Regions from separate parts of the Homo sapiens genome. Here regions 1 and 2 are each linked to region 3. Evidence: fine-mapped expression QTL. A gene starts in region 3. Each other region holds a variant in brackets. All regions are shown on one strand. Distances are from middle to middle.

Region 1 (7,463 bases), 29 kb after region 3:
GAGACCCAAATTCTGACTTCTCTGCACCACCCACCTTGACTGCTTCACCTCTTGTTCTATCCAGCACGTCAGTCATCACCTTGCCAGTATCCTCAACCCCAGTCACACGTGCCAGCCAAAGCCCCAACCCTACAGCCAAAGCACTGACTGCAGGCCTGTGTGGCTCCTCCTCCCAGGTGCTGGGCTATCTGGGGAGAGTAGCCCACACCCCACGTGGTGCCGTCCACTGTCTGCAGCCCCTGTGAACCCTAACACTCACAAGTGGCGCCAATGCTGAGGACCAGCTTGAGAGTCAGAAGGCCAGGGTTCCACACTTTGCTCTTATGTCAACATGGACAGGTTAATTTGCCTTCCTCATCTGTAAAACGGGGATCACATCTGGTACGGGGCGGTATTAAGGCTTCATTGAGGTGAGTGGATAACACATCCACTTCCTGTGGCTGCACAGGAAGCTTTCAATAAAAGGTAACTGTCATTATGGGTCTAGCTCTCTCCTGGTTCTTCATAGCATCTATCCGAATTCTTCTCCCTTCTCTTAGTATCTCTCGTCCCACTCCACCCCTATTCTTGGCAGACAATCTCCTCTAATTTCTTCCCAGGCAGACAGAGGAAACAACCCATGGCAATTCTCCAACTTCCTGCCACCTCTTCTACAAACTCACCTCCAGGCTCATCTTTCACCTTCCCTCTCCTCCTGCCCAGGCTCACCCCTCCCCACGCACTCTGGTGCCCACCCCTCCTCCCCACATTGCACTCCCGCACCCTCTTCCACAGCCTTAGCCTCTCCCTCTTTCCTGGCCCCTTCCCACCACCCTTTAAACCTGCCCATCTCTCCCGGTTAATCAGATCCTCCTTCTGTCCACAGTCCCTTCCAGCTGTAGCGCCAGCCTTCCCGTATACCCAAACTTCCTCAAAGAGCTCTACTTTTTGATCCGTATTCATTCCTCAATCCAACACACTCTTGCCTCACCCCCAACATTCCATGGAAATTAGTTTCATCCAGATCACTTCTGACCCTCCTGTCACTAAGTCGGATTTATCTTTTATTTCATATATTGCTCAAACTGCGTGGGAAGCATCTGGCGCTATTGGCCAGGTCCTTCCTTCAAAACGCTTCCCCATCGGTTTCCACCGCAGCCTTCATGGCTTTCCTCCTAGCTCTCTGATAGCTCCTTTAGGCCTCCTTCAAGGACCCTCTTCCTTGAGACATGTGGGTGTTGGCAAGGTCTTATTTTAGGCCTCCTTTGTTTTCACCTTTAGAGCCTCTCACCGGATTATCTCATCCATTCTGATGGCATCAGCTGCATTCTACGTACTGATGTCTCTCAAAGCTGGATCTCTGGGCCAGACACTACTAGGAAGGTAGTACCGTCTAATGAATATCTTGGTTTGTGTGCCCCAAAGTACCTCAAAAACTGGACTCCTTATCTTCCCCCACTGCCTTGCCGACCCCTGCACTATTCCCTATCTGGGCAAGTGGCTCCTCTAAACACCCAGTGACTCCAATCAGAACCCGGCTGGGAAGAGGAAAGGAGGGATCTGTGGGGAGGCAACGTGGACCCCTCTGCACCCCGCTCTGCACTCACTCACCCTTCCCTACCAGTAGCCCAAGTGATTTTGGGGGAAGGCTGGGAAATCGACCTATTATATACTCCCTCGTTACCTGCACACAGATACTACAGCCTGAACCCCACTCAGATCAATCCCTCTCCTCCATCCTCACAGATGTTCCCTTGGTCCAGGCCACTATCACCTCTCATGGGGTTATAGCAACAACCTCCTCTCGGTTTCGCTGACCTCCTCCAGGGCGATCCTTGCACGGCAGCCCCAGGGACCTTGCTGAAGGCCAGACCCATCCGAAGCCTTTCAGTGTCTAATGTCTGAACTTTTTTTTTTTGATACAAGGTCTCATTCTCTCCTCTGGGCTGCAGTGCAGTGGTGTGACACGGCTCACTGCAGCCTTGACTTCCTCCAGCTTGTGATCCTCCCACCTCAGCCTCCTAGGTAGCTGCTACTACAGGCATGCACCACCACACCCAGCGGATTTTTGTATTTTTTGTAGAGACGGGGTTTCGCCATGTTGCCCAGGCTGGTCTTAAACTTCTGGGCTCAAGCGATCCACACACCTTGGCCTCTCGGAGTGCTGAGATTACGGTGTGAGCCACCACACCTGGCTTGAACTACTTTTATGATCAGAAAAATACAACAAAGGCACATCTATTCCAGGACTTTGGAAGGTCAGGGTGAGGGGAAGCTGGAGCCCAGGAGTTCAAGACCGTCCTGGGCAACATGGTGAAACTCCATCTCTACAAAAAATACAAACATTAGCCAGGCGTGGTGGCATGTGCTTGTAGCCCTAGCTACCTGGGAGGCTGAGGTGAGAGGATCACCTGAGCCAAGGGAGGTCGAGGTTGCAGTGAGCCGTGATCATGCCACTGCACTCCAGCCTGAGCAACAGAGAGAGACCCTGTCTCAAAAAACAAAACAAAACAAAACAAAACAAAAACCAACAAAAGCTGTTTTATGAAAAAGAAACAAAATTGTCTTTAAATAACTGAGTTTCACAGCAAAAACAAAACAAAATTAAAAACCAAGAGGCATCAGGCCGTGGTGTGGGGAGGAGGGATGGATGGGGCCAGAGGTGGGAGGGAGGGGATTCCCCGTCACTGTGCTCAGTCTTCAGCCCGGCTGTGCTGTGCCCAGGACCTGCCTCGCAGCCTGACCTTCGCCTGGCTCTGTTCCAGCAATTACACATCAGCCCCGGTGATAAACATCAGTGCTGAGCAGAGGGCCAAAGGGTCTCAGGCACTGCCTCCAGCTCCAGCATAAACAGAAACGCCATGATTCATTTTTACCTCCCAAGATGATCTCCAGGGGTCGGAGTGGCGCAATGGCAGCCAAGAAAAGGGCAGCGGTTTGTGAACCTGGGAAAAAAAGGGCATTTTCTGATGCAGTCCTGCGGGAGACCAGGCTTTACAAGAGGAGTGAACGCCACCATCTCAGGGCCTGCTCTGTCTTTGTAGGGAAGGGGAGCAAAGAAACCTTCTGGAAAAGACAAGGATAATGTGCAGATGTGGGTGGCTGGGCACTTACACTGCATGTGTCACCAAACTCTGCCAAGGCTGGGAGGGTTCTTGCCTGCCTTGAGTCTTTAAGGACCAGGGTTTCTAGTGAAAGGGATGGTAAATGGGGGAAGGTGGCCTGACCTCAAAAGCCTGCCAAGAGCCATCAAGAGGCACCAGAAAGGAAGGCACGGTGAGCGGTGTCTGTGTTTCACCTAGGCCCTTACCCCTACCACCAAGGCTTCTGCATTCACTGCAAGTAGAGAAAGACAGAGGCGTTTTGAGGTGAGGGCATGCAACACAGCCTGCAATAGCTAAGACTTCACAGTCAGCGCCATTCTGGCTTCTGCCTGGGGGTTATGCAGAACCCATCACTAGGGGGATGAAGGTTCTTGTGGCAGATCTTCTCGGCCAATGAAGGGTCAACTCCATTGCTCTCAGCAGAACTAAATGCTTTGCCAACTGGTCTGGTGACTCATACTGGGAAGCTTGTAGCAAACCCCATTTTTGGAGAAACCGGGAAATCTCTTTGGGGAGA[TA/T]AACAAGTCACTGTAGCACTCTGCTCTCTGAAGTGCCTGGCTAGTACTTTCTGCTTCTTCATTTTATCCCAGCACCAAGGAAAACCCAAGCAAGTCTGGGAAATGTTGTAAAGATCTACACAAATGCAAGCTATTTGTCCCAGGCTTCTGGGTCCCACTTAGGTCCCGGAGGGTGGCAGAAGGAACATACTGTTCTTTTACTGCCTGGGGCTGTGAGCAGGAGGCCTGGCTTTCATACAGCCCCTCTCCTGTTCCTTCTAAACAGAAAAGGGTACATTGGCTAAAGCAGGAGCAGCTTTATGGTGTCTGACCTCTGCAGTGCTCCAGGGCCCCATGCTCAGAGGGCCCTACGCTTGGTTTAATTCTCTGCTGTCATCGTCTTGAAAGTTTTAGTAATTCTTGAGCACATTTTCATTTTGCGCTAAGCCCTGCAAATTCTGTAGCCAGTCCTAGGCCTAAGAGGCCAGGGATCAGGGATGGTGCAGCTCTCTGTCTTCCCGCCTTCTCCCTCTTCAGGAATGGCTCTCCCACCCCACAGACACTGGGACATCAGCCTTGACGCTTCCTTTTTCCCTCACCACGTTCCCTTCATCCCACCTTCCTAACATAGCTGAGATTAGCTTCCTCACATCCCCTCACCATTGCTGTGTTTGCGGCCTCCATCATCTCTTGCCTCCCCACTGAACCCCCTGCCTCCTGTCTTCCTTCTCTTTGAGTGCACTCTGTCTCCAGAAAGACCTTTCAAAATGTGATTCTGATCCATGGCTCCCATGCTTTCAGGATGAAGTGCAGACTTTGTAGCATGGCAACAAAGCCCTCCGTGACCTGGCCTGTGCCTGCCTCTGTGCGCCCTCCCCTTCCTGCCTGCACTCTGGTTACAGTGAGGAACAGCCACGCTGGGCTCTCTTGGGTCTTGCTGCCCTACCCCATGCTGGGCTCTCTTGGGTCTTGTTGCCTATGCATGCTGCTCCTGCCACACAGGATGTCCTCTCGCTTTCTTCTCTGCCTGGCTAACACTTCTTCTTTTGTTCCTCCTCCTTCTTTTTAACTTTATATGTGGAAAAGTTCGACTGTACAACAAACTAGAGAGAACAGCACAATGAACCTCAAGGTACCCATTGCCCAGCTTCAGCGATTCTCTACATATGGCCAATCTTGTTTCATCTGATGCCCACCCATTTTTGTCACAATCTCACATTATTTGAAAGCAAATTCCAGGTGTATCATTTCATGCATACATATTTCAGTGTGTACTCTATTTCTTTTTTAGGGACAGGGTCTCACTCTGTCACCCAGGCTGGAGTGTAGTGGTATGATCATAGCTCACTATAACCTCAAACTCCTGGGCTCAAGTGATCCTCCTGCCTCAGCTTTCCGAGTATCTAGGACTACAGGCATGTGCCACCATGCCTGGCTAACTTTTATTTTTGTAGATCTGGGGTCTTGCTATGTTGCTCAGGCTGGTCTCAAACTCCTGGCCTCAAGCAATCCTCCCGCCTTGGCCTCACTTTTGCTGGGATTACAGGTGTGAGCCACCATGCCTGGCCTCAGTGTGTATCTCTAAAAGACAGAAACTTTTTTTTTTTTGGGGGGTCAGAGCCTCAGTCCTTCACCCAGGCTGGAGTGCAGTGGTACTCACTGCAACCTCCGCCTCCTGGGTTCAAGCAATTTTCCTGCCTCAGCCTCCCAAGTAGCTGGGATTACAGGTGCCCACCACCATGCCCGGCTGATTTTGTATTTTTAGTAGAGACGGGGTTTCACCATGTTGGCCAGGCTGGTCTCAAACTCCTGACCTCAGGTGATCTGCCTGCCTTGGCCTCCCAAAGTGCTGGGATTACAGGCATGAGCCACCACGCCTGGCCCCTTTTCTTCTTTTTTAACCTGACTCTGTGTCAGAAAGCCCATTTGGTCCTGTTATTCCCAGGGACTGTATAAAGCAAGGTGACCCCTTCTCTTCTATGTGAGTGCTCTGTAGGTATTGGGTCCTCTCCCTGAGGCTGCTTTTCTGTGGGCTAGAAAAGTTCATCTGTTAGACTAAGCCTGCCATTCCAGCCTGACTAGAATTTTCTAAATCCTGGTTCTGCTGTTTAAAAGCTCACTGTGACTCTCAGCTTCAGATAATCTGCCAGTGTGGTACATGTGCCTTCTGGATCTTTTTGTCCACTAACCAGGGCAGACTCCAGGGCAGAACTCTCTGGTATCCTACTACAGGCCTCCAGGGAGCCACCAATCAGCATCCACCTGCATCACCTTCCAGTCCACATCTCTCCATCCTGGCCACTAAACTATTGTAAGCAGCCTTTTTCAGTGTCTTCCTAAAGTCTCCAGAAGAGCCCAGGACTTCAAAGAGTAGAAGGAATATATTGGCTTCAATGCCATCTCCACCCGCCACTGGCTCTCTCTCTTTTTTTTTTTTTTTTTTTTTTTTTTTTGAGACCAAGTTTTGTTCTTGTCACCCAGGCAGCTGGGGTGCAATGGCATGATCTTGGCTCACTGCAACCTCAACCTCCGGGGTTCAAGTGATTCTCCTGCCTCAGCCTCCCAAGTAGCTGGGATTACAGGCACCCACCACCACGCCTGGTTAATTTTTGTATTTTTAGCAGAGACAGGGTTTCTCCATGTTGGCCAGGCTGGTCTTGAACTCCTGACCTCAGACGATCCGCCCGCCTCAGCCTCCCACCCACCATTGACTCTCTGACTGGGGATTACTACCCCAGTAAAATGACATACTTTCCCAGGCCTTGTGAATTGTTCTGGAAAGACATCATGCTACAGGGTCAATACAACTCCTAAATGCAGCTCCCTTTTAGCAGCTGAGGCCCTTGGAGACACCGGTTTTTCCTATGCCAAGGCCACAGAGACCAGAATTCCACTTGCTTGCTGAGGAAGTCAATCATAGTTGAGAAATAGCTGAGGAGTAAGCTGAGTCTTTAAGCTCAAGGACAATTAGGAGGTGGGTCTGGATATTCTACTGGAAGGGAGAAAGAAAAGCCAAGACCTACTGGGAAGACAGGGAGCAAACAAGGATGTCAAGCCATTAAATCAAGGAGGCCAAGTGGCCTCTACACAGTGCAGGACCCAGCGAATATAGAATAGGGGGTGGGAGGCTGGGCGCGGTGGCTCACGCCTGTAATCTCAGCACTTTGGGAAGCCAAGGCAGGAGGCTTGCTTGAGCCCAGGAGTTTGAGACCAGCCTGGGCAACATAGTGTGACCCTGTTTCTAAAAATAAAAATAAATAAATAAATAAAAAAGTAAGAAAGAAGAGAAAAAAAGAAAGGAAATGATGAGATCTTGGACCAGGCTGAGCAGTGAACACAGAGGAGTGGAGATGCATTCCATGGACATTTCTAGGGTACAGTTAATAAGATTCAGTGAAGTGGACAATGCCGAGGAGAAGTGGAGGATGACTCCCTGATTTCCAGTTTGGTTGCCTGGTTAGAGAGTGATGCTTATAACCATGGCGGGGAATATGGAGCGGGGAGATGAGGGTGGCACTTGAGATGATCAACTGTTTTGGCCATGACAAAATTTAAATGCCTAACAGGTTGGCATTAATAAAGATCTGGGCTGGGCGCAGTGGCTCACACCTGTAATCCCAGCACTTTGGGAGGCTGAGGCGGGCAGATCACGAGGTCAGGAGTTCGAGGCTAGCCTGGCCAGCATAGTGAAACCCCATCTCTACTAAAAATACAAAAATTAGCTGGGCATGGTGGTGCGAGCCTGCAGTCCCAGCTACTCGTGAGGCTGAGGTTGGAGAACTGCTTGACCCCAGGAGGTGGAGGTTGCAGTGAGCTGAGATTGCACCACTGCCCTCCAGCCTGGGCGACAGAGTGAGACTCCATCTCAAAAAAAAAAAAAAAA
Region 2 (7,463 bases), 56 kb before region 3:
TGAGGGGAGAAAAGATGGCGGCGGCGGCGGCAGCTGGTGCGGCCTCCGGGCTGCCGGGTCCAGTGGCACAAGGATTAAAGGAAGCGTTAGTGGATACGCTCACCGGGATCCTATCCCCAGTACAGGAGGTGCGGGCGGCTGCTGAAGAACAGATTAAGGTGCTGGAGGTGACGGAGGGTGAGTGAGGCGGGACCGTCACGAGGATGGCTCAGCCGCACAATCCGCTGACCGCAGCTCCGTACCGGCTGGGGACATGGGGAGCCTGAGCCAGTTGGAGATGTGGGCGCCGAGAAGTGGAGCAGGAAGCGAGAGATTGATGTCGCTGGTGGTTGTGAAAGTCCGAGAGAGGAGAGGCGCGCCTGAAGGATAGGGTCGGGGGAGGTGGAGCCTGGGAGTGGGGGAGGGAGGGTGGAGACTTGAAAAGATAGATGGAGCCTAGAATCTGCAGGGGACGGAGATGGAGCTAGACTTGGTGCTGTTGGAGGAAGTAGCGCGGTCGGGGAAATATTTTTTGAGTCCAGGACCAAAGTCTTTCGCTGTTCTCTTCACCAGCTGGATTGTACTGGGATAAGAGTAGGGGGAGCTATTAGTAGGAGTGGTGAAGGGTAGGGCCTCGAAAAGGCGGCTATCAAAGCTTAATAGATGTCATCAAACAAGTTTCTGCCTCTGAGTTATAAACCTAGCTAGTTGTTTGTACTCTTCGTGTTTTCCCAGAAATTAAATGCATATGCGATTGCTTCACTGTCCTGACCATACTTAACGTTTATTTTAAAAATAATTTGCCCTTATTAAATACCTTTGTGCATTTCTGTTTGGAGGAACTGATCATCCTTTGTTTTTGATTCTTTGTCTCCGTCCTCTATTGTGTGCTTTAAAGTGATGGAGAAGAAAATAAACCATTGGTTCGAGATTTTCTATCAATTTCCTGCCGCGTGAGCCTTTCACCGGGTCCAGTGTAGCTACCACAAAGAACAATTTAATCCAGAAACAGGAGGAGAAATCTTCTTGGTCTTTGTGTAAGAAATATATCTGGTCAGAGCTTCACTGGAACTCCAAATCCTCAGAATCTCCCAACTCAGGAATATTTCCACCACCACTTAAATACTTCATCAGAGATATGGGAAATTGTCCCATCACACACCCATCATATTCAAAACCTTCAGTTAGCTCTCCTACTGGACGTATTTCTATTGAAAAGAATTTAGAACAAATCTCTCTTAAATTTAGTTTACATTCTTTCACAGTATGAAAGAGCTGTTGAAAACAAATTTTCTTCTGTTGGAAATATGTTAAGATTTGGGATCTAACAGGCTAAGGACCATTTTGAAGGCCCACTTGTAATTGTCATTGTTTTATAAAATATCAGATCTATACAGGAGAAACCACTGGTTAGGAGAAAGCTGTTTGAGAACCATGTATAAACTAATCTAAAGGAATTTTTAGCGGCTTCTAAATAAAATTCGTTTATGCACATTAATGTCTGTCCCCCTTGAGTATGAGGAAGGAAGAGTGACAAAGCAAAGGAACCTCATCACATTCAAGTTGTCACCTGAATAAAACTTGAGAGTCTGGTGCAAATTCATCTTAACTAAACCTTCCCTGAGTGGTACCCAGTGCTCCTGGTGCTCCAAATGCATGTCTGGCACCTTTGTATGAAAGGTGGACCTTGACTTGTATTTAAACTGTCTTACAACAACTCCACTTTTGCTCTGATCTTTTCAACTTTAGCCAAATGCCATGGTCTCATCTGGGCAAAGTCAATTATAAAGTTCTCGAGGTCTTTTTTGAAACTCTGATTCCTCACTTTATTCATCTTTTTTTTCTTGAGACTGGGTCTCGCTCTATCGTGTAGACTTTGGAGCAGTGATGCCATCATGGCTCACTGCAGCCTCAAACTTTTGGACTCAAGCGATCCTCCCACCTAGGCCTCCCAAAGTGCTGGGATTACAGGCCTCAGCCACCACACCTGGCATCTTTTTGAGCCTTTAAGTGAAAAATTAAATTTCAGAAGTACAGAATTTTGATCTAAGTCACTGATGAGAAATAGATCGACTGCCCCCCGACCCCCATAACTTACTGGTAATGTGCTGTTGGGCAGACTATGAGAATGAAAAGTATGGAAAGGCATCGATGCAGTGACCTGATATTGGTGATCTAGTAATAGAGCATATGACTCAGGTTTTGGATTTGGTTAGAGGGTTGGATCAGTCTCTGGAGTTTAGTGCAATGCTTCGGACCCTTTGGAGGCTGCTTGTGTCTTTTAAGTAGTCTGGCTCCTTAATGTCTATCAAAAAAACTATAGAGATTTACCCCCTTCTGTACCTGTTTTAAGGTGGAGAATGGCGGTCCATTCCCTCAGATGCGGTCTGCTTTCTTCCTCTTGTGGCCTTTAACAAGTTATCTTTGACATTGGGTTCAGAGTACCTCCCACCTTAAACTCTGTCTGAATCTCTCAGATGTTTTCTGAACATGGTGCAATATAGTAGCTGCTTCTTTACCAGCCTCAACCCTTCTTTACATGAAAACATAGAACCCAGCTTTCCAGCCGGGATTTAGCCAACTATCTGGCCTGATGAAACTGGCAGGACATGGTTCCTCCTATTAGAATGCCCTACAGAGCAAGATGAGCCATTCTTGCAAACTACTTTCCACTTCTTTGGTGTTGCTTCACATTTTAGTGTTTTTTGCTTTTGTTGTTGTTGTTGTTGTTGTTGTTGTTGTTTTGAGACAGAGTCTCAGTCTGTCGCCCAGGCTGGAGTGCAGTGGTGCGATCTCGGCTCACTGCAACCTCCGCCTCCTGGGTTCAAGCAATTCTCCTGCCTCAGCCTCCCGAGTAGCTGGGATTACAGGCACCTGCCACCATGCCTGGCTAATTTTTGTATTTTTAGTAGAGACGAGGTTTCACCATGTTGGCCAGGTTGTCTCGAACTCCTGACCTCAGGTGATCCACCCGCCTCGGCCTCCCAAAGTGCTGGGATTACAGCCGTGAGCCACTGCACCCAGCCCACATTTTAGTTTTACCCTGGTAGAAGGAACCTTGTTTTCTGATTCTAGGAAACACTTTTTTTTTTTTTGAGACCGAGTCTCACTCTGTGGTCCAGGGCCCAGGCTGGAGTGCAGTGGCATGATCTCAGCTCACTGCAACCTCCACCTCCCAGGTTCAAGCAATTCTCGTGCCTCAGCCTCCCAAGTAGTTGGGATTACAGGCATGCACCACCATGCCTGGCTAATTTTTGTATTTTTAGCAGAGGCGGAGTTTAGCCATGTTGCCCAGGCTGATCTTGAACTCCTGAGCTCAAGCAGTCTGCCCACCTCAGCCTCCCAAAATGCTGAGATTACAGGCATGAGCCAACCGGCCAGGCCGGAAACACTCTTAAAACTTGAAGTTAATGAGAAATCTGGGATTTGGTGTCTATTATTATTTGTGTTCTGGTAATCTTTTGATCATTTTTTGGTTCCATGGGGCCCAGGATCAGGTGACAACCAGATCTAGTCCTCCCTCTGTCCTCTCAAATAACCACACTGTCTTTGTGAGCTGTTTATTAGTCCATCACATAGGAGACTGATCCCACATGGTCTTTAAGATTAACTGGTCCGTTCCCTTTGCCAAAAACATTTGTTACCTTCCTTGGCTACCAGGTGATGATCCCTTGTCTTGAAGATTAAATGGAAGAATATCTAATTTATGGGGAAAGGACACAGGTCAATTGTCAACTCCCTGTTAAAAGGACAGGCAAGAGAAGTTGACATGCTGTGACCAAATTGTACTATAGATGAGATTTTAAGAAGCAGTTATCTTAGAAAATAAAGATTGCTGGAGCCTAGAGTAGTCCTGATCATTTAGTGTACCAGCTGATATTTTCTGATAAATAAATAAATTGCCTATAATTAATTATCACATTTTCCAGAATGGGCACCTGTTCTCTTAAGCCAAGGAAGTGTGTGTATGTGAGAGATCCATTTGATTCATGTAGCGTGTCAATCTGAAAAGGATAAGATAGGTTACTTCATCAGCCTGGTGTCCTGGAATG[ATT/A]TTTTTTTTTTTTTTAATTTTATTTTTTGAGACAGAGTCTCGCTCTGTCACCCAGGCTGGAGTGCATTGGCATGATCTCGGCTCACTGCAACATCCGCCTCCTAGATTCAAGTGATTCTCATGCCTAGGCCTCCCAAGTAGCTGGGATTACAGGCGCGTACCAACACGCCAGGCTAATTTTTGTATTTTTAGTAGAGATGGAGTTTCACCATGTTAGCCAGGCTGGTCTCGAACTCCTGACCTCAGGTGATCCACCCACCTTGCCCTCCCAAAGTGCTAGGATTACAGGCGTGAGCCACTGCGCCTGGCTGGAATGATTTTCTTGAGCCCCTGTGCTTGCTATTTTTGCTAGTCACTTGGAATCTGGAAGAAACCCAGCAAACCTCTCTGAATATTTAAAGTCTATTTAACAGGGCTAATTAGATAAGGAGATGATGCCAGTAACCACCTTCATCAGATAGCACTCCCATCCTGAATTGAGAAGAACATTGCTTGAAAGTTTGGAAGTTATTATGGTGTACAGTATTCTGCAGATAATTGTTAACCTTTCATTTTTCTTTCTTTCTTTTTTTTAAGATACAGAGTTTTGCTCTGTCACCCAGGCTAGAGTGCAGTGGTGTGATCATAGCTTACTGCAGCTTCTAACTCCTGGGCTTACGCAGTCCTCCCAACCTCAGCCTCCCAAGTGGCTGTGACTACAAGCACATGCCCATACTTGGCTGATTTTTTTAGTTTTTTTCTGGAGATGGGGTCTTGCTGTGTTGACCAGGCTGGCCTTGAACTCCTGCCCTCAAGTGATCCTCCTAAAGTGCTGAGATTATAGGCATGAGCAACCACACCTGGCCCCTTTCATTTTTCTTAGGAGGATTGAGATTTTGAGTTTGATCAGGTTTGTAGGAAATTTACTTCTACCTAAATAGGGTAAAAAAAATTTTTTTTAAGTTTTTTTATTCGTTAGAGTAAAAAAACTTTTCTTTTCTTTTTTTTTTTTGTTGCACTGCTAAGAGTCTAAAGCATGCTTTCTAATTCTGTTTTGTTTAATAGGCAGGTTCATATTAAGCACTTTACAAACATAGTAGTTAAAAAGACTGGAGAGGTTATGAACCACCGAAGATCTCTTACGTCAAAGTCTCATATTCTGTACTCAGCTTCATCAACTCTTTTTCTTTTGTTTTTGTCTGACTTACGGTGAGATCATGAGAATTACCATCTTTTGAGAATGTCAGCCTTTTATTTTTGGTGTATTCGTGCTTTATTTTTTTATATCTTAAAATGAAGTTCTTTCCCTCTTTTTCTACTTCTTTCTCTACTTTTCCTCTAAGAATGGCATTATCCAAGTGGTGGAATGGGTTGCTTTCATTCAGAAGCTTTAATTCTTCGTGCCAGCATGCACAGACTTTCTTACATAACTAGATTTAGACCCTAGGACATTTTCTTCTTTGCTTATTTCTTTTTTGCCTATTACAAATGATGACATTTCCCCTATCATTTGGCCTTGTCTAGTTCCCAGTAGATAAGTCACAGAGAATACATTTTTCTTCCCTTCTACCACCATTATGTTGAACAGGGGAGGGGGGAAATTATCTCTCCCTCACCTTTCCTGGCATTCAGATGCTGCCGAGATACCTGTATTGATTTCCCCATCTTAGATGCCTAGAGAGATGATCCTGCTGGCTGGAAGTTTGCTTTCTGGTTCTCATGGGCACTTTTCTGGCTCTTTTGCAGTATAGCGTAAGCACTGTCCACCTGCGAAGGGCGCCCCTCAAGGATCCAGACGCACTCCTGGGCATGTGGCGGGCACTGAGCCGAGCGGAAGGCGGCCACGCTCGGAAAAAGGCCAGTGGTGGAGTTTTCTTTTTCCTTTCAGCTGTGGTTTTGTGGTGCTTACCAACTCCCATGAGAAATAGGGGGCTTGTCCAGGGGGTCTACTCAAAACCGCATCCTTCTCCAACAATCCCTGTTCACAATTCTTATTAGTTGACTGTCAAAGTACTGCCAAGTCTTGTCTCTCTAGGAGACCCTTCAGACCAATAGCATGTATTTCTTAAGTGATCCTTTATCCTCCATGCTCTCCTTTGGGTTTTCCCTTCTAAACCAAGTTTTAGATAGATAATGTTTTTGCCATATGGGGTGATAAGAGAGAAAGGGGAGCAAGGATAACGAGAGGGAAGCAAAAGACTAAAAGAGAATGAGACTAGAGAATGAAAGAGGGCAGAGGATTTCTTAGGAAGTCAAAGGATGCCATTTTGGATAGGAATAAAGGTATAATTAAGGAGAATCTAGAGTCAGGGTGAAAACCCAGATTAACAGAATGAACTGTCCTTATTTCACCATGGGAAAGGGAACTAGAGAAATTAAATTTCCTAACAAAAATAGCTTTAGAAAACAACTTCATATAGCCCTCTTGGCAGTGTTGCCCTTTGGCTCAACTTCATAGATTGAATGTTAGTTTAATCTTAAACAGTCGTTTCCAAGCAAAGCAAAATAAAGCGGATATTTATGTCTGTGTTTCTTATATTTTCCCTGCCTTCATCATCCCAGAGTAAGTTATTAGGCTATTCTTTCTCATATTTTTAAAGACATTGTGTTAAAGACACCAGGCCGGGCACAGTGTGGCTCACTCCTGTAATCCCAGCACTTTGGGAGGCCGAGGAGGGCGGATCACAAGGTCAGGAGATCAAGACCATCCTGGCTAACATGGTGAAACCCCATCTCTACTAAAAATACAAAAAAATTAGCCAGGCGTGGTGGCGGGCGCCTGTAGTCCCAGCTATTCTGGAGGCTGAGGTAGGAGAATGGCCTGAACCCGGGAGGCAGAGCTTGCAGTGAGCCAAGATCACACCACTGCACTCCAGCCCTCCAGCCTGGGTGACAGAGCAAGACTCCATCTCAAAAAAAAAAAAAAAAAAAAAAAACAGACACCAATCAGTAAAACCAGAAGTCCCCCAACACACACACACGTACTTTTTTTTTAACAAATATACTTAGTTGTATTTCAAAAAATATTGTATCTCTGTTAAGTGAAAAATCTGTAAGTAGGGTTTTACTACGTAACAGAAACCAATGGATAGGAGCAAATGTGTTGATCAGATTTAAAATAAGGCCAAGAGCTTTAGAATTATTTTCTGGCTTTTCCTTCTTTGCATTAGTTTGTTTCTTAGTTTGTTTTTTAATTGAGACAAGGTCTTGCTCTGTCATCCAGGCTGGAGTGCAGTGGTGTGATCATAGCTCACTGCAGCCTCAAACTCCTGGGCTCAAGTGATCCTTCCATGTTAGCCTCCTTAGTAGCTGGGACTACAGGTGTGCATCACCACACCCAGCTAATTTTGCATCGGTTTTATAGCACGGAGTTTACCATCAACATCATACTCCTTGGAAACAATTATTTATATAGCTTTTAAGTAAACTAAAGTATTATGGGTATGACACT
Region 3 (7,463 bases):
GGACAAACAGGAGACAGTCTTTCATTTACAGCAAGAAAGATTAAAGCTGGATGCCAAGAAAAGCATTCTGATTTAAGAGAGATGTTTGTTTATTCCGGGGCAGTGAGAGCCAAAAGACCTGGTTCCCCAACTAAGCCATGAGACTTGGCCAAGTCCTGGTGCTGTCCTAGGCCTTACTCTTCCTAGCTGTGGACTGCAAGGAGAATTAATGTGTCCAAGACCCTCCAGGAAGGATCTGACATTAAATCAGAGTAAAGAACTCAGGGTCCTATGGAGTGGGGGAATGTATAATTACCTGTCTGCAGGAGTTGGGTTGCCAGAGGCTGGGCAAGGAGGAATAGAAAAAAGGAGGGCAGAGTAATGTAGAGTGCATTCCTGGAGAGCACTGACTGACCAGAGGCAGGAATTAGGAAAGGAATGGAGTTTCCCTTATCTTGGAATGGTTCAACAAACCACTGGCCAGACAAAAGTGGAGGCAGGAGCCTCCACGGCCAAACAGCATGGGTGGGGTAGGACCAGGGTGGGATGGAGCCTCCAGGGCTCATGGCCCAGGAAAGTAAGGAAGGCCTCAGGAATGCCTGTGTTAGTCTGCTCTGATAGAGGAGCATGGAAGAGGTTGGGAGGAGCCCTGGGCTGGTCATTCAGCCCAGGAGTGAGGTGACTCAGCAGAGCACTCCTACCACAGCCCCTAGCCAAGCCCAAACTGGGTCACAGGCAGGGTCCCAGCCCTTCCCCTCCTCCTGCCTTTCCCCACTTCAGATATCCCTGGCTACCTTCTCACCACATGCAGAGGCCTGCTAGAGATAAGGGCTGGGCATCAAAGTTTCCCTGAATACATGCTTTTTATGCCAGGCATAGCACTGAACATTTTAGACTTGTTTTTTTGTTTGTTTGAGACGGAGTTTCGCTCTTGTTGCCCAGGCTGGAATGCAATGGCGATTCCCGGGTTCAAGCCTCCCGGGTTCAAGTGATTCTCCTGCCTCAGCCTCCCGAGCAGCTAGGATTACAGTCATGTGCCACCACACCCAGCTAATTTTGTATTTTTAGTAGAGACGGGGTTTCTACATGTTGATCAGGCTGGTCTCCAACTCCCGACCTCAGGTGATCTGCCTGCCTTGGCCTCCCAAAGTGTTGGGATTACAAGCGTGAGCCACCGTGCCTGGCCCTTTAGACTTGTTTAAAGAGAAGCAGGTGGTGAAGCTGAAGGGCCTGGGCTTTGAAGCCACAAAAGTCCAACTGCAAATCCCAGCAGTGTGAGCTGGGGGAATTGAAGTTCTTCCAACTTCAGTTTCCTCATCTGTACAATGGGATGAGCTCATCAGCAATGTTCGCTGCTGGTGGTATCATTACCATCATATTCCAGACACCCTGAGGAGAACCTCCTACTGGCAAAGCCTATGTTTTGTCTCATCTGATCACAAATTACTCTGCCTCCTCTTTTCCAGGAAAGCGTTTCTTTCCCTTGCTGGGGATTAAGAGACCAGCTTGGTGAGCGGGGGGTATTCCTGCCTGCCCTTACCTAGAGAAGGTGTAGTGAAGCCCTTCCAGGCCTGAAGATTTAGACAACTTCTTCCAGGGCCCCCAGTCCTCCCACCCAAGCCCCTCCTCACTCCTGGCCAATCTACAGACTCTTTCAAGACCCAGGTTCATTATGGCGACATAAGCTAGCCCCAGCTCTCCATCTCCGAGCTCCAGCATCCCTTGTCAAGGTAAGAAGTGCCAGTTCTCCCAGTGCAGCCAGTTCTCCCCTCTGGTTGGCCCACAGCCCCCTCTCTTCACTCTCTGTCCTAGTCTAGTCACCTCCCATCCCATGAACTGAAACACATTCTTAGAATTTTGCAATTAGAAAATCACTGATGATGTTGGTGCGTGCTAGGTGTCATTGCAAGCTGGAAGTGTCAACTAGGGGTATACACTTTGAGGAGGGCGTGTCAACTAGGGGTATACACTTTGAGGAAGGCTAGTTGGAGAAAAAAGCAGGAAAGTAGCTAGAGAGGGATGAGTTTTAGGAAGGATGTGGTTTGGTTTGGTTTGCTTTGCTTTGCTTTGCTTTAAATAGGAGAGACTTGAGATTTCCTAGGGAAAAGAAGCTGGTAAGGTGTGAGAAGCTAAAGACACTAAAGAGATGGGATAATGAAGAGACAAATCAGCAGGGGTCAAGGGTACACATGGGAGATTCAGCTCTGGGCAGGAAAGACAGTCCCTTATCTGAAGATGATTCAACCAACAATGACAACACTGATGGCTAGGGCTGGATGGCCACATTGAACACAGCCACGTGGTCCCTGCAGTCATGGAGCTTTTAGTGTAGGAAAGAGGAGATGGATGGCAATGGGCACACTGAGTAGGTGGTGCTGGATTCAGAGGCGTTTCTCTTTGTCCCTGCTGCTGCATTTATGACTGTGTCCTGCGTGAGGACATACTCTTGCCCATCAGGCTACCAGCAACTTTCTGGGGCAGGAGCCTATCCTCTCCTATTCCAGCTCTCTTGGGTAGGTGTGCCAGCACCCACAGGGGCCCAGGATGGGGTAGCTCCTCTTTCGGCTGTCCTTCCCTAACCTACTAAGATTCTACTGGGCCTTCCATGGACCTGTCCTGATTCTCTCACCCCAGAACACAAGAAATACTCACTGTCTACACTGTCTGCTGTTGCGGCTGGGGATCAACCCTGATTTAGATTTGGGTCTTCCTGATGCCTCTACCATTTACTGGCTGTATTACCTTGAACAAGTTCTTTAACCTCCATGAGTCCTAGTTTCTCAGTCTGTGAAATGCGATTGATAACACTGATGAACCTTGCTTAGTTCATGGAGTTGTGGAAAGATTCCAGTGAGGTAGATGTGGAAGCCCAGAAGTGTGTGAAAGGGTGTACATGGCAGGGGATTAAGGTAGGCTTTTGATGATCTCCCTGGCTTAATTTGCAGTTCCTCGGAGGGTACCTCATGTAGCATGGGGCATAGTCACTGGCACTCAGTATAAACCTGTGAAGACTGACCTCTCCCATCCTAAAACACTGTCTCCACCTGGAATTAACTGTTGCCCACCTGAAATTAACTGTTGCCCTCCCTATGCTCCGGTGGCTATTGCAGTACAGGCTTGCTCTGTGAAGGGCTTTCACTGTGAAGAGTGTTTAACTGGATGGGCCCCAGGTGGCCCCAGCAGCCTGCCTTCCCTGCTAGTGAGGCCATGGGCTGGTGCATGCCAGCTCTGTCCACTTGAAGGGGGAAGGGTCCATCGTAGGGAGCCAGTGCAGCTGGCAGGGTTCAGGCCTGTGGGCACCGCTGGGGACAAAGCCACTCTGAATGCCTCTCAATGAGTGCTTGTGTTCTGGGAATGGGGGCGGGGTGACATCCAGCCTCTTTCCCTCTCCGCCCCCGACAGGATGTCCCAGGCTGGACGCGGCAGAGGAGGTCCCCCACAAGTGAAGGTCCAGCCCTGCTCCTCCAGGGTTGGCCCATGTGTCTGGGCATTCGGAGGTGGCACCAGGATCAGGGCTTCTGGAGTCCAGCATAGTGATTGGGCCCAGGCCGGGGGCGGGTCCAGGACACAGCCAGGCTTCCCTGGCCGCAGTGCCCAACTGCCCGCAGTGCCCATGGTGGCTCGGATGGGAGGAACCACCGCGGAGCCGGGGACAGGGGGAGCAGGGCAGTGCTCTGCTGGGTGAGGGGCACCCAGCTCCAGAGGCTAGGTGGGCGTCGCTGGTGGGTGGACTCCTGGGCGCTGCGCGGAGCCGCGCCGGCTGGGTTAGCGCGGGCGGGGCGCTTAGTCCCACCCCCAGAGGAGGCGGAAGAGGAGCCCGAGCCTGGCCGCGGGCTGGGCCCCGCCGCAGCTCCAGCTGGCCGGCTTGGTCCTGCGGTCCCTTCTCTGGGAGGCCCGACCCCGGCCGCGCCCAGCCCCCACCATGCCACCCGCGGGGCTCCGCCGGGCCGCGCCGCTCACCGCAATCGCTCTGTTGGTGCTGGGGGCTCCCCTGGGTAAGGGGATGGGGAGAGATGCGGCAGGAGTGGGATGGGGGCGGAGGAAGGGGAGGGACCGATCCGAGGGGCTTGGGCTCGGGGCTTCTCCGAGACCCTCCGGCTGCCACGGGAGCCTTGGGTGTTGCTGGGTCCTCAAGAAGCGGGAAGAGGGAGCTCCAGGATGCTGGGCCATGGGAGGCTGATCCCGGGGTGCAGGGTCAGCTTCAGGCAGAGGCCTCGGGGGCTCTGGGGCTGAGACCCTCAGGGTGGAGACAAGGGGCAACCCTCAGTGTTCGGGAGCCGTCAGGCTGGGGACCGCCGGGGGAGTGGGGCCGAGCGCGGCTGGGGATGAACTGGCCTGGTGGCCACTGGGCACCCCCAATCCCTGCCCGCAGTGCTGGCCGGCGAGGACTGCCTGTGGTACCTGGACCGGAATGGCTCCTGGCATCCGGGGTTTAACTGCGAGTTCTTCACCTTCTGCTGCGGGACCTGCTACCATCGGTACTGCTGCAGGGACCTGACCTTGCTTATCACCGAGAGGCAGCAGAAGCACTGCCTGGCCTTCAGGTGGGTTCCTGCCTCCTCACCCTCACCACCTCCTCTATCCTTTTCTCCAGAGGCCTCCTCTTCCTCCCTCCCGGACTCCTGCCTCCTCCGTTGTCGACCTCCACATTCTTAGCTGAATAGAGTCACCAGGACTCAAGCCTGGCGGCAGAGCTAGGTGCTTAGGTGCTGGTGCCTGGGAGTTCCAGAAAAGGCATGTTAGTTACCTTCATAGGCTTTGACTGGGCCCGGGGTTTCCAGGTTCTTTCTGGAGCCCTCCCTTTGGTCCTGCCAGGTCATGGGGAGGGAGGGTTCAAGGTTAACACCCGGACGACAGTGTAGCTTTGTGGAAGAAGCTCTGGCACAAAGGCAGGAGACTTGGGTTTGATTCCCAGGTCCACTTCTTACTAGCTGTGTGATCTTGGAGAAGACACTTGCCTTCTATGGGTCATTGCTTGCCAAATTAGTGGTTGTCAAACTTTTTTTTAATATATCATATATAAAATAGATATAGAGACTTCTGATTGAAGCGGGGTTTGGAAAAAATGGCTCTAGATTATTTCTAAGGCTCCTTTCAGTGTTATGCTGTATGTCTAATCATTTAAGTTGTAGATATAAAAGCAATGGTTGGGGGCGCACTGCAAATCCCCGTATGCTTCACACTAGCCAGCCAGGCAGCATAGCCTTCTGGGAAGTGGAGGTCCTCTAAGATCTCCTTCACAGGGACTGGGCAGAGCCCCACAAGGAACCCCAAATCTCAGCATGCCATGGCCCCCCTGCTGGCCAGGAGTTGGAGCCAGCATAATGAGGACTCCGTCCTATGAGTGTTGGAAGGTGAGAGGACCTGTTCTTTGTCTAAAGCCCCAAGACCATAGCAGGCATCGCCTCAGCTGTGATCCTCTTTGTTGCTGTGGTTGCCACCACCATCTGCTGCTTCCTCTGTTCCTGTTGCTACCTGTACCGCCGGCGCCAGCAGCTCCAGAGCCCATTTGAAGGTACACCCAGTACTGGGCAAGAAGGGCCTCAGATGGGCTGGGCTAAGTCCAATAATGGGCAGCAGAGAGTTCATGGATTGGGTAAATTCTGTAGTAGTATGTGCTTCTGTATACACACACCTGCCAGCATGAAAACCCAGAAAAATGCTTGTAAACCCGTGAATATTAGAATGTGCCTGGGATATATGGAACATCAGACTTTGTGTGCATTTCTGTGCATACACATGAAGATTCAAATGTGTACAGGAGTGCAGTCTGTCAACAATAGTGGGTGCAGTGGGTGTATGCATACATATGACTCTTAGTAAGTACACGGGGTCAGGTCTGTAGTGATGAACATTAATTGAGTGTGCTCCAGTGGATGGCAAAATATGTGCCTGAGTGTTGGCATGTGATGCACATATGCCACAACCTGATGGACATGGGGACAGTGATGCCATACGGGAGATCAGTGTGGGAGGGAAGGGCTAGGAGAAGACCCTCTTAGTGGCAGCTCTGCTGGATTACAGGATACCAGCCCTGAGCTGTCCCCTTCTTGCCCAAGTGAGATATTCCCTGGGCTGTGCTCCCTGGTTCATGAGGTCTCTGAAACCTGCTGAGGGGAGCAAACTTGCTCAACACAGATTGACCAGCTGGGGCCACGTGCACAGCTCCCTGCTTAACTCTGCCAAGCAGGGTGTGGGAGGCAAAGATGGCCAGCCTGGAGCTTGCCAGAGGCCAGCACCAGGGTGCTTACCTTGGTTTCCTGGGCAGGAGGAGGAGGCTTCCCATAGGAGATGGGTCTCTGAATGCTGATCCTTCTCCCCCATCTAGGCCAGGAGATTCCAATGACAGGCATCCCAGTGCAGCCAGTATACCCATACCCCCAGGACCCCAAAGCTGGCCCTGCACCCCCACAGCCTGGCTTCATATACCCACCTAGTGGTCCTGCTCCCCAATATCCACTCTACCCAGCTGGGCCCCCAGTCTACAACCCTGCAGGTAAGTAAGCAATCTGGAGCCCCTTGCTGCTGCCTTCCCCCACCCCTTGCCCTGCGACCTCCCCTGTGCCTCTCTCATTCTCAGATTCCCTCTCCCAGACTTCCTCCACCTCTAGCCCGAAACCTCCAGGCCCACTCTTCCCTATGGGTCCTGTCTGCCCCGGGGGCAGGGGTGTTACTTTTCGTCCACCTATGCCACCACTCACCCTCATCCTGTCTCTTTGGCTTTCAGCTCCTCCTCCCTATATGCCACCACAGCCCTCTTACCCGGGAGCCTGAGGAACCAGCCATGTCTCTGCTGCCCCTTCAGTGATGCCAACCTTGGGAGATGCCCTCATCCTGTACCTGCATCTGGTCCTGGGGGTGGCAGGAGTCCTCCAGCCACCAGGCCCCAGACCAAGCCAAGCCCTGGGCCCTACTGGGGACAGAGCCCCAGGGAAGTGGAACAGGAGCTGAACTAGAACTATGAGGGGTTGGGGGGAGGGCTTGGAATTATGGGCTATTTTTACTGGGGGCAAGGGAGGGAGATGACAGCCTGGGTCACAGTGCCTGTTTTCAAATAGTCCCTCTGCTCCCAAGATCCCAGCCAGGAAGGCTGGGGCCCTACTGTTTGTCCCCTCTGGGCTGGGGTGGGGGGAGGGAGGAGGTTCCGTCAGCAGCTGGCAGTAGCCCTCCTCTCTGGCTGCCCCACTGGCCACATCTCTGGCCTGCTAGATTAAAGCTGTAAAGACATAACTCATATCAGTCGCATCATTGGACCCATCCACACCTTCCAGGAACACCGCCTTCAGCTGGGCCCAGACTGTTGCCCACTCCATATTCCAAAAGTAGGGGAGGGCCAGCACCAGCATCGGAGCACAGCACCATCCTCACCCCCATCCACAAGCAGACCAAGGCGGACTGTTCCTGGCTTCCTAAAGGCTTCCTAAAGACAATGAGGTGAATTTTGCCACAGCTCTGAAGAGATGCTCGTTTGCACTACAGATATT

Direction of the effects. Positions count from the first base shown, and alleles are read on the strand shown. Sizes are in standard deviations (SD) of each study's normalised expression. Not every link is listed here.
With allele A in place of ATT in region 2, the expression in macrophages of the gene that starts at base 3,805 in region 3 is lower (moderate effect, 0.58 SD a copy in Nedelec 2016).

What was found.
Region 1: its variant is fine-mapped to the expression of SHISA4 in tibial nerve (GTEx, PIP 0.96).
Region 2: its variant is fine-mapped to the expression of SHISA4 in macrophages (Nedelec 2016, PIP 0.91).

The regions. Positions count from the first base shown.
Region 1 is chr1:201,914,041-201,921,503 of GRCh38, forward strand. All of the region lies in intron 1 of LMOD1 (leiomodin 1), which reads right to left. Among named protein-coding and RNA genes, the nearest start is that of LMOD1, 29 kb to the right of the region's middle. RefSeq lists an enhancer at 169-669. The variant TA/T (reference allele first, on the strand shown) is at 3,601.
Region 2 is chr1:201,829,196-201,836,658 of GRCh38, forward strand. It overlaps IPO9 (importin 9), which reads left to right. Exons shown (of 24, transcript NM_018085.5): 1 at 1-177. The coding sequence starts at 15. IPO9-AS1 (IPO9 antisense RNA 1) reads right to left here and starts at 364. Exons shown (of 3, transcript NR_046696.1): 1 at 1-364. RefSeq lists enhancers at 1-40, 52-261 and a silencer at 1. The variant ATT/A (reference allele first, on the strand shown) is at 4,032.
Region 3 is chr1:201,885,094-201,892,556 of GRCh38, forward strand. It overlaps SHISA4 (shisa family member 4), which reads left to right and starts at 3,805. Exons shown (of 5, transcript NM_198149.3): 1 at 3,805-3,974; 2 at 4,352-4,523; 3 at 5,361-5,494; 4 at 6,308-6,475; 5 at 6,707-7,463. The coding sequence starts at 3,902. The coding sequence ends at 6,753. RefSeq lists enhancers at 3,298-3,807, 3,648-3,942.